Linked DNA regions of Homo sapiens: region 1 is linked to region 2. Evidence: fine-mapped expression QTL. A gene starts in region 2. The other region holds a variant in brackets. All regions are shown on one strand. Distances are between the middles of the regions. Region 1 has its middle 9.0 kb from the start of FAM131B. Region 2 holds the start of CASP2 (caspase 2).

The links. PIP is the estimated chance that this variant, and not a neighbour inherited with it, causes the effect. A credible set is the group of variants that fine-mapping cannot tell apart.
Region 1: its variant is the best candidate, but not a certain one, in a credible set for the expression of CASP2 in whole blood (TOPMed, PIP 0.79).

Annotation. Positions count from the first base shown.
Region 1 is chr7:143,368,996-143,374,516 of GRCh38, reverse strand. It overlaps a transcript of FAM131B not described here. Among named protein-coding and RNA genes, the nearest start is that of FAM131B, 9.0 kb to the right of the region's middle. The variant A/G (reference allele first, on the strand shown) is at 2,300.
Region 2 is chr7:143,285,241-143,290,240 of GRCh38, reverse strand. It overlaps CASP2 (caspase 2), which reads right to left and starts at 1,890. Exons shown (of 11, transcript NM_032982.4): 1 at 1,712-1,890. The coding sequence starts at 1,785. TMEM139 (transmembrane protein 139) reads right to left here. Exons shown (of 3, transcript NM_001282876.2): 1 at 4,796-5,000; 2 at 4,039-4,300; 3 at 2,193-3,817. The coding sequence starts at 4,283. The coding sequence ends at 3,412. TMEM139-AS1 (TMEM139 antisense RNA 1) reads left to right here and starts at 3,907. Exons shown (of 3, transcript NR_133932.1): 1 at 3,907-4,264; 2 at 4,403-4,523. RefSeq lists a silencer at 1,514-2,263 and an enhancer at 4,058-5,000.

The sequences.
Region 1 (5,521 bases), 84 kb before region 2:
CTTAGGGGCAGTGTGGAGAGTCACAGGAGAGGCCAATGCAGATGTGTGAAGGACAATTAAAAGGTTCTGGTAGAGCTCGAGGTGAAAGGGAGGAGATTTGTGGAAATGGACAAAAGTGGATAGAGTAGAGAGCTTTTTAGGACATGAACTCGTCCACAGAAAGAATGGGACAAAGGGAGAAAGAGACATCACAGGCCCATCCCAGCTTCTGGTTGGTACCTATGTGGAGCGTGGCACTCTCCACTGAAAAGTACAGGTCTGGGAGTGAGATTGTGTGTTTCATTCTGGACGTACTGAGAATGAGTAGGCGCACAGTGGGCAGTAGGATATCCAGGTCCAAGGCAGAGAAAAGAAAATTATACTGAAGATCCACATTTATAAGTCATCTACCTCCAAATAGCAATTTGAAGCCATTATTGGCTGAAAAAAAAAATCACCTATCAAATATTGCATGAACAGTCGAGAGGGCTAGGATATGGGCTTTGCTGGATTCTAGCATTTTATGGTTAGGTGGAAGAGGGAGGTATGCACTTTCTGAGTAAAAGTCACCCTCACTCAGATGCAAGGCACATCTGCTCTTCCCCAGGCCTCTGTGTCTCTGCCAGCAGTAAAGAAAGGATGCTTACTCCTCCCACTTTGCCTACACTGTGAGCGCAGGAGTGCCTTGCCCACAGTTGCTCGCCTGGAGACCACCAGAGCTAATTTTATTAAGTCCTGTATTAAGTCCCTTTTATTAACCCCAGAATGTCACTTATGGAAAGAAGCCCTAAATTCCTAGCTCCTGCTACACCTTGGTCCCTGGCTCAACTCCTGAAAACCAGTCCAGGGTGCCTTCAGAGCATGTAGGCCCTTTTCAGCAAGCATTCCTCTTTTTTGAGCATCCTCTCTCCTTCTTATTCTAACCTGGATCATCCCTGAGGACACACCGCCTCAGCGCCCCCCACCAGGTGGCAGACAATGTTTTCCCCATAGCCCTGAATGTGGAACAGATATCTCTTTGAACTCTCATTGCTATATCCAGACAATTCTCCCTCCCTCCTTCCTAAAATCCCCCAGTTTTGAATGTCACGTGATTAAACTACACAACTACTGCACATCCTATATAGTCATCTGTTGCCCTGGGTCACACACCCTCATTTCTTTCTCTTGCTCTGTCACCCAGGCTGGAGTGCAGTGGTGTGATCTCAGCTCACTACAACCTCTGCCTTCCAGTTCAAGCGATTCTCCTGCCTCAGCCTCCTGAGTAGCTGGGATTACAGGTGCGCACCACCACACCTGACTAATTTTTGTATTTTTAGTAGAGATGGGGTTTCACCATGTTGGTCAGGCTGGTCTGGCACTCCTGACCTCAAGTGATCCACCTGCCTCAGCTTCCCAAAGTGCTGACATTACAGACGTGAGCCACGGTGCCTGGCCAAGAGTAAAAATAAATGAATAAAAAGAAAAAAAATAAATGAGTAAGCCTATATACCCAAACATGTAACCACTAATGGTGTAACCACTATTTTTAAAATTATTTATTTATTTATTTATTATTATTATTTTTTAATGTTTTTGACATGGAGTTTTACTCTTGTTGCCCAGGCTGGAGTGCAGTGGCACAATGTCGGCTCAACTGCAACCTCCGCCTCCCGGGTTCAAGCGATTCTCCTGCCTCAGCCTCCCAAGTAGGTGGGATTACAGGTGCCCACCACGACACCTGGTTAATTTTTGTATTTTTAGTAGAGACGAGGTTTCACCATGTCGGCGAGGCTGGTCTCGAACTACTGATCTCAGATGATCCGCCTGTCTCAGCCTCCCAAAGTGCTGGGATTACAGGCATGAGCCACTGTGCCAGGCCTTAAAAATTATTAATGAGGTATTTTACTTTTTTGGCACTAAGTCATGGGAATTTGGTGTGTATTTTACACTTACAGCATGTCTCAATTCACGCTAGTCCCATTGCAGGTGCTCAAAGGTTACACATTGCTGGTGGCTCCCACATTGCATAGCAAGTTCTAAATAGACCCTGAGCCATCTCTGTACAATCCTAATTTTAAGCCACACTTTCTCCAACCAGCTCCTTCTATTTTTCTAGTCATTCTCTTTTTGTGCTTCGACAATCCCTTGGCCCACTGGAACTTGCCATTCACGTCCATACCAGCTCACATTTCCTGGACAATCATTACAGTCACTCCCTTACATCTGTCTCAACTTCCTGTGCCTCTTTCTCACCCTGTGGTGCTCACTTGGCAAAACCCCAGCCTGGGCTGAGTCCAATTCTACCAACTCCATGCCTGCACCCACACAGCTGGGTGGC[A/G]CTACAGAAAAACATACAGCCCTTCTGACAGATCTCATTGTAAACTCCATGGCTGTGAGCTGCAGATGCCATCTGACCTTTCTACGTCCTGATAAACATACCAGTCTCGTTTTTCCATCCACTCTCCCACTCTGACTCTCTCAGAAGGCTTCTAGACCTTCTCCTCTCTCTCCACATCTCCTTCCACATCCTCATGCATAGCTGATGCCTTGCTTCCTGTTGCAAGGAGAAAATTAAACAAATTGAAAAAAAACCTTTCCTAGGCTCTACCTACATCAAATCAAACTAATCCCACATGCTCTCTGGCCTCATCTCCCAGCAATCATTTTGCCTCAGCCACAATGGCCTTGTTACTGTTCCTCCAATGTGTAAGGCACATTCCCATCTCAGGGCCTTGCATTTGCTAGTTTCTCTGCTGGGAAGGTTCTTCCACAGACATCTGTATGGATCACCCCATTATCTCCATCATAGCCTTCCTCACATGCTGACCTCTCAGTGAGGCCTCCCATGACCATCCAGTTTAGAATGACATATACCAGCCCTTTCATTATTATCCACCTCTCCTTTCTTTTTTTCTTTTCTTTTTTTTTTTTTTTTTTTTTTTGAGACAGGGTCTTGCGGTGTTGCCCAGGCTGGAGTGCAATGGCATAATCATGGCCCACTGCAGCCTCTACCTCCCAGGCCCAAGCAATCCTCTCATCTCAGCTTCTCAAGTAGCTGGGACCACAGGCATGTGCCACCAGGCCTGGCTAATTTTCTTTTTCTTTTTGTAAAGACAAGGTCTCCATATGTTGCCCAGGCTGGTCTTGAACACCTGAGCTCAAGCAATCCTCTCACATCAGCCTCCCAAAGTGCTGGGATTACAGGCATGAGCCACCACGCCTGGCCCTTCCTTAATTTTTCTTCATAGTAATTATCACCTTAAATATATCATTCCATCCTGGGTTTTGGCACTCCCCCACCAAACAATTCAGTCTCTTAATTGTTGTATTGCTGTTTCTGCCCCACCACTTCTCACTAGACTATAAGCTCCGTGACAGCAGGAGTTTTGGATCGTAGAACCTAGAGAGGTACTGACATAGAGTAGGTAGGTGCTCCTTAAATACCTGTAATATGGAATGAATGAATGAATAATGGAAAAAACTAACAAAAAAAGACAAAGAAGGAGCAGCCGGAAAGTCAAGAGGAGAACCAAGAAAGAGTGTTTGGGAATGAGGGAGTAACCATGAGTCCCTCACGAGGGTATGAAATGCCCCTGATGTGCCACTTAAGGTTAGAAATGAACAAAATCTGTTAACATGGAGGCTAAGGGTGTTACTGGAAAGAAGTCCCAATCCAGACCCCAAGAGAGGGTTCTTGGATCTCGCACAAGAAGGAACTCAGGGCGAGTCCATAGAGGAAAGTAAAAGCAAGTTTATTAGGAAAATAAAGGAATAAAGAATGGCTACTACACACACAGAGCAGCCCTGAGGGCTGCTGGTTGCCCATTTTCATGTGTGTGTATTTTTTTAAATTATATGCTAAACAAGGGGTAGGTTATTCATACCTCCCCATTTTAGACCATAAGGTAACTTCCTGAGGTCGCCATGGCATTTGTTGGCGCTGGTGGGAGGGTAGCAGTGAAGACCAGAGGTTACTCTCGTCGCCATTTCGGTTTTGGCGGGTTTTAGTCAGCTTCTTTACTGCAACCTGTTTTATCAGCAAGATCTTTATGACCTATGTCTTGTGCTAACTTTTTATCTCATCCTGTGACTTAGAATGCCATAACCGTCTGGGAACACAGCCCAGCAGGTCTTAGCCTTGTTTTACCCAGCTCCTATTCAAGATGGAGTTGCTCTGGTTCAATTGCCTCTGACAGGGGAGCCCCCCGTGTGAGCTGCTTCAGTAGAGTGAAGATGCCAGATTGGGTAAGTTGAGGAGTGCAGAGAAGTAAGGAAATGGAGAAGATGAGTGCCGGCAGCTCTTTCAAAAATTTTGGCTGTGAGAGAAACTAGAGCTCCAGGAAGAGAAAGATCAAGGGGCAAATTCCAGCTCCCACCTTAGAAGGAAGACATTGCTTGCATTCCTTGGCCCTGCCCCCAACACAGTTTTCCACCATCAGTAATAAAATTCAGGCTTGACTACCACTAGCCACCTCATGCATATACATGAACAAAGAGGTTGGAAAGGAAATTCTTCTTTAAGTTAAAGAGAGAAACACCCAGCACCTGGCGTTCAAAATTTCCAGTGTCCTTTGGACCTTCCTGCCTGTGTGGGTGCCCTGGCAGGATAATTGTGATTGATTGATTCAGTGAGTGAACAGCTTTCAAGTGGACCCCCACCCAGGAGAGCAATGCCTTGTCCCTATTAGCTTATCACCATCACAAAACCTTAACCAAACGGTGGTCTGAACCTATACACTAGGATTAAGTACCCATTCTTAAATGAGCTCTGAACTCCTAAGTTAGAAAGAACAATGGTCTTTTTTTTTCTTTTAATTTTATTGTGGTTGGTAAGAATGCTTATGAGGAGATCTACTCGCTTAAAACTTTTTTTTTTTTTTTGAGACGGATTCTCGCTCTGTCGCCCAGGCTGTAGTGCAGTGGTGCGATCTCAGCTCACTGCAACCTCCACCTCCTGGGTTCAAGCAATTCTCCTGCCTCAGCCTCCCGAGTAGCTAGGACTACAGGTGCCCACCACCATGTCCGGGTAATTTTTGTATTTTTAGTAGAGACGGGGTTTCACCGTGTTGGCCAGGCAGGTCTCGAACTCCTGACCTCAGGTGATTCACCCTCCTCGGCCTCCCAAAGTGCTGGGATTACAGGCGTGAGCCACCGCGCCCGGCCAAAACATTTTTTTAACCTGTTTTATCTGCAAGAAGTTGAACAGTCTCCATAAGCAAAAAGATTATGAGGCCTGAGCTTATTTCAACAGGGCTTAATGTTATAATAAAAGTCATAGAAAAATAATGTAACATAGCTTTAGGGGTGCATCTTAGGATAGGGAAAAGAATGTTAGACTAAGAATTAGAGGACCTGAATTTTGGTTACAGTTCAGCCACTTACTAACTCAGCCACTTACTAAGTGTGTGACTGTAAAAATCTGAGAGGTGAATTTTCCTTGTCTGTGGAAGTACAGCAAGGAACTTGATTTCTAAGTATTCAACCAGTTTTAACACTCAGTCATCTGTAACTAATGCCCTATATATCCACCACTCTTTCACTGTCGGGAAAATGCCTTCAC
Region 2 (5,000 bases):
AAAATACAAAAAATTAGCCGAGTGTGGTGCTGCATGCCTGTAGTCCTAGCTACTCGGGAGGCTGAGACAGGAGAATCGCTTGAACCTTGGAGATGGAGGTTGCAGTGAGCTGAGATCATTCCACTGCACTCCAGCCTGGGTGACACAGCAAAGACTCCGTCCAAAAAAAAAAAAAAAAAAAAAAAGGGAGGGAAAAAATGTGTATCTTAGAGTCAGTGAAATACCACACATCTATGGAATGGATGCACTTGGCTTGCAGATGCTATTGGGTGAGAGATTTATAGTTAGAAGAGGGAAGAGCTGGGTCCTGGAAGAACTGGGAGAACTAAGATAGCAGGTGGGATCCTAAAACAGATGAAGTGGGTTGGAAGCAGCCAATGAATCTGAGGTTTGGAAAAATGAGTCTGAAACTCCATTTTTTCTTCTTTTTACTGTAATATTTCCATTACCCAAGACTTTCAGGAAAAACTGGCTACAAGAAAAAGAGCTATACAAATAAAAAAACCTATTTAAGAATGAATCACTTTCGAATACGTCAAAGCAGTAATAACGATCACATATAACACTGCAGCTGGGATACTAACCAGTGGTGCAGCAGATTTCTTCCATTAGTTTACCAGTAGTATTCGCTCCTTAAATCGTTCTCTTCCTCTGGTTTCCATGACAGCATTCTTTGGGAGTCTTCTCTCTGCCTACCCAGTTCCTGTTTTCTTTAGAGGGCCTTTGGCCTGCCCTTAATATTGATATTCCATTAGGGACGCCCCTTCAAAGAGCCTTTCCCTAGACAATCTCACCCATACTTGCAACTTACTGACTTATAGTTCTTAACTCTCTCGAGTTCCAGACTTGAATTTTCAATCAACTCTTTAGTTTTAATCTGAAGCATCACCCCCTCTGCACACCCGCTCCTTCCTCTACTCTGTAGTATGAGAGTCTTAAACGTGAACATTATAAAAGTTTCCAATCATTTAGAATTTCAGGACACAACTGGAAGGGGAGGAGGGGCGAAGGGCACCACGGAGTTCCTACGTCTTAATTCTGTGTCCTTCTGCAGGTTCCCTTTGCGAAGACCTTAATCTTCAGTCTCGAGCAGGAGGCATTACAATGTTCTCCTGGGTGATGACTGCCATGAAATGGAATGACCGGGGCAGAGGCATGGACACTCGGAGCCACAGGAACCCCCTTGTTCTGCCAAAAGTACTCAATTTCCAAACCCTGTATTGACTTCTTTGAAAATCTGGTCATTCTATGCAAAGCCATGCAGATCATGATACAATCGATACAAATCAAATGCACATCAGGCAGAGCACCGAGGTCTGCAGAAGGTCTCGTCGATTTTTAAGGAGACAGAGTATGGTCTTTTTATAGTTTCCCTCATAAGGGAGCCAGAGGAAAGGATGAAGAATCTTCAAGAGAACCCAAGAGCGGGCAGGACTGCAAAGACCTCCCCTTTAGAACCCTCGTGGGTTGAACAAAGGGAGGCTGGGGCAGTCTTTTCCCACGAGAGACAAGGCCAAGAGGTCCGCCCGCGGGCCCTTGCGCGGAGTCAGGCTCGGAGCGGCTCGGGCGGGCGTCCCACCCTTGGCAGGAAGCGCGGACACGGCTGCTTTCCGGGGCTCCGAGGGGAGGGGGCTGCAGGGCCGCACGCCTGGGGGCCACGCTCCCCTTCCCTGGGCTCCCCTAAGGAGCCCTAAGACCGTTCCCTACTTACCTGCGTCCCCTGTCAGCGGCCATCAGCTCCTTGTGCTGGAAGGTGGACCAAGACCCCGCGCTCGGCGCCGCCATTTCCCGCTTTTCCCGGGCTCTCCGCTGCGCACCGCCCACAGCCCAAACAAACCGGGGGCCGTCGCTTCCCCCACATCCCTCCCCTCAGACGCGGACGCACACTGCGCCTGCGCCTGCGCCCTGCCGCGCCCACACACCAGGCCACCCAGTCCCCGGCCCGGTGCGTGCGCAGGCGCAGAGCTCTAGCGGCGGCCGCGCGGTCCAATGGGGTGAAGTGGGGTGCTCGGCGGACAGACAAAAGGAGGGGAAGGAGCGGGGCGGGGCAAAGGGCGGGGAAAGAGCGAGGGCGGGCGGGTGTGCTCCGTTCGGCCTGGGAATCCGATTGGTTATCGATTCCCGCGGAAATCACCCCGGTGCCTCTCGCGCCCCCTGGCCGGCCTATGGCGATAACTTCACGGAGACGGGCGTGGCTGGAGTTTTGCTTTATTGAAGTTGAACGGTTGGGGCCAGGCTGCGAAGGAGACTGAGAGCGCGACAAGGCCCTGGACAGATGCCCGCGCGGGGAAGGAAGGCTGGCTTAGGAGGGGGCGTCAGCTATGGTTTAGCAGCTTCCAGCGACCGAAACCTACATCACAGCCGCAGCACACAATTCCAGGAAACCTGGTGCTCAATATTGGGATCTCAGGAATCAGGACCGGCGGCTGGGGTGAAAGCCTAGCGGTCAGAGCTTAGGAGTGAGGCAGAAGCTGTTAGAGACTCTTCGCAAGTGACCCCGGGGCTACATATGGATGATTCAAGAGGGAGTCTCCTCGCCAGAAAGTTCACATGTTTCACTCCTTCTGGCCTTCATACCAACCCATTGTTAAAACTGGAAGTCCCTCCACCTGGGGTCACTGACTCCACTGTTTTCAGATAGGATGGGGACCCTGCACTGGAGACTGCTCTCTAGCCCCTGGGCAGGAGAGGCACAGACACTGCTACGCACGCGGAGCAGGGATCACCAGCGCTTTGACTGACTTTGCTCGTCCAGGAGGCTGGGGACATGCGTGCCCATGCTCAGCCCACCCCCTCTGTAGACACAATTGGTCGCCCATTCTGTTTATAGGAAGTCTTCCATCCTGCACCAGCAGCTGTCCCTAGACAGGGATTGGGAGACATGCAAGTTGCTTGGCTTCCTATTACCTTGTGTTGAAAACACAATAGGCTTTGGGATCAGGAGTTCATTCCAGTTATTTTAATGTTATTTACTAGCAGTGTGCCCTCGTGCACATTATCAAACTCCTCTGACTCTTGGAATCCTCATTTTTCAATAATAACTCACAAAGCTGTCAAGCCTAAGGGTTCTAACAGCTCGAACAGCACCTGGAACAGAAGCAATAGCCGCCACTCAGAGGTTACTTCTTCCTTCTCCGCCTTCTCTGGATCACCTCCCTACCTCATCCTCAATCTAACGCTGGAAATATTGGATATGGGGTAGGTCACCAAATGTTGCCAGAAGACTCAAATTATGCCACCCATATCTCAGCTGGGAAGGGCTTACCGTGGCCTGACTCTCCTCAGGGTCCAAGTCCCCATTTATGATGTCCAGGCAGAAACACTTGTTTCTGACACATAGTAGGCGCTGGAAAATGTTAGTCAAATGAACGAGGTCTGGTGTGGAGAGAAGAGAAATCTTGGGAGAGTCATTTAAGGGGGTGCCCAGTTGTCCTCATAAAAAACACTATCATCATCAGGGTGACCAAAGCAGACATCATAGGCAGGGGGTGGAGTCAGAGGCTCTAATGTGGGGACTGCCGCCAAGCTCTGCAGATCAGGAGCAGTGGACACAGCCCGTGGTCCCCGAAGCCGAAGGTTGATTGGAGCTCTTCCAGGGCTTCCTTCCTGGGCCATGGACCCCTCTGAGGCCATTCGCCTCTGTTCCAGTTTGGCTCTCCTGGACCCCTCTGGATGGCTAGGTTGTTCCTCCTCAGGTGCTGGGGGTATCACAACAGTGCTGTAGGGGGGTGGTTGGTCCAACTCTTGGGGGCGGCACTGGGATTCTAGTCCCACCACGGCCTCTTCATAGACTGGCACTTCAAAGGCTTCATTGTCCCTGAGGGAAGAGAAATAAGGCCATTGGTGGCTTCCATGAAAGAAGCCCTTTTTCCCTTTTTTTTGTCTGCTGTGGGCAAAAGATCCTCTGTTGGCCTCTGACCCCTCCTCCCGCTGATGCCAATGACAGGAAACCAGAGACTCTCTGCCTCAGAGACTACAGGGAGAGAGGGAGGATGGGCCCAAGGTGTATTCCTCTTACGATGCCCACCCTTAACTCACCGTGCATTGCCTGAGGGCCCTGGGCTCTCAGTCTGCATTGATTGGAGCTGGGACCGAAGCCCCCATTCCAGAAACCGGACCAGGAGATAGGCAAACAAGAAGAAGCCACCCAATGTGAGAAAGAAATAAGCAACGGGGGTGATGTCCGTCTTTATGCCCAGCAAAGCCAGCCCCAGTAGGAAGGAGGCGCAGCACAGGAGGAGAAGCGGCTTCTCCAGTCTCCCCAGTAAGTGCATTGGCACCATGGCCCCTCCCCAGGCTCCTGCAAAAAGACACACAGCTATTGTGTCTACACTAGCAATTGGTGTCATGGCTGTGTCAGATACCAAAGTAACCATATGATATTTCTTTGTTTGGTTTCTAGGTTCTTCAATCTCAAATAAATCATCTGTAGAGTCCCCTCCAGTTCCGAAATTCTCTCTATGTCTTGGAGTGTGTGGAATAGCCAGGAAACCAGCCCAGGAGCTTTGACTCCCAGCCATTCTGTAAGTTGACTGTGTCATGGCTCTGCCTTCTTTCCTTTCTCCTTCCCTGTAGTCTCCCTTCCAGCTTTGTCCCTTACCACCATCCAGGATCCGGTCCTGGGCACGCCCTGCCTGGGGCTTCAGTGCACACTGGCATCTCTGGAATTCAGGTGATGGGGCAGGCCCTGCCCTTCCTCTGTTATTGCTCCTACTGGATCTCCACCCCCACCTCCCCAGCCAGAGGCCCTCAATCCAGCCCCGTTAGAGAGAAGAGGGGAGGGAGCCCCACTTACCCTGTCTGACTCTGTCTTTTCCTTTCCTCCGGTGTTAGCCCATGCTCCAGGTGGAGGGAGAAAGTGCACACAGGCGCACCAAAGCCACAGGGACACAACTGCTTGAGAAACAATTGTACAGGCAAAGGCCCAGCACAATGGCCGGAGGCCCTGATAACTCCTGTCCTCTTCTAGACCCCACATCTGCCAGGGCCCTCCTCTACCC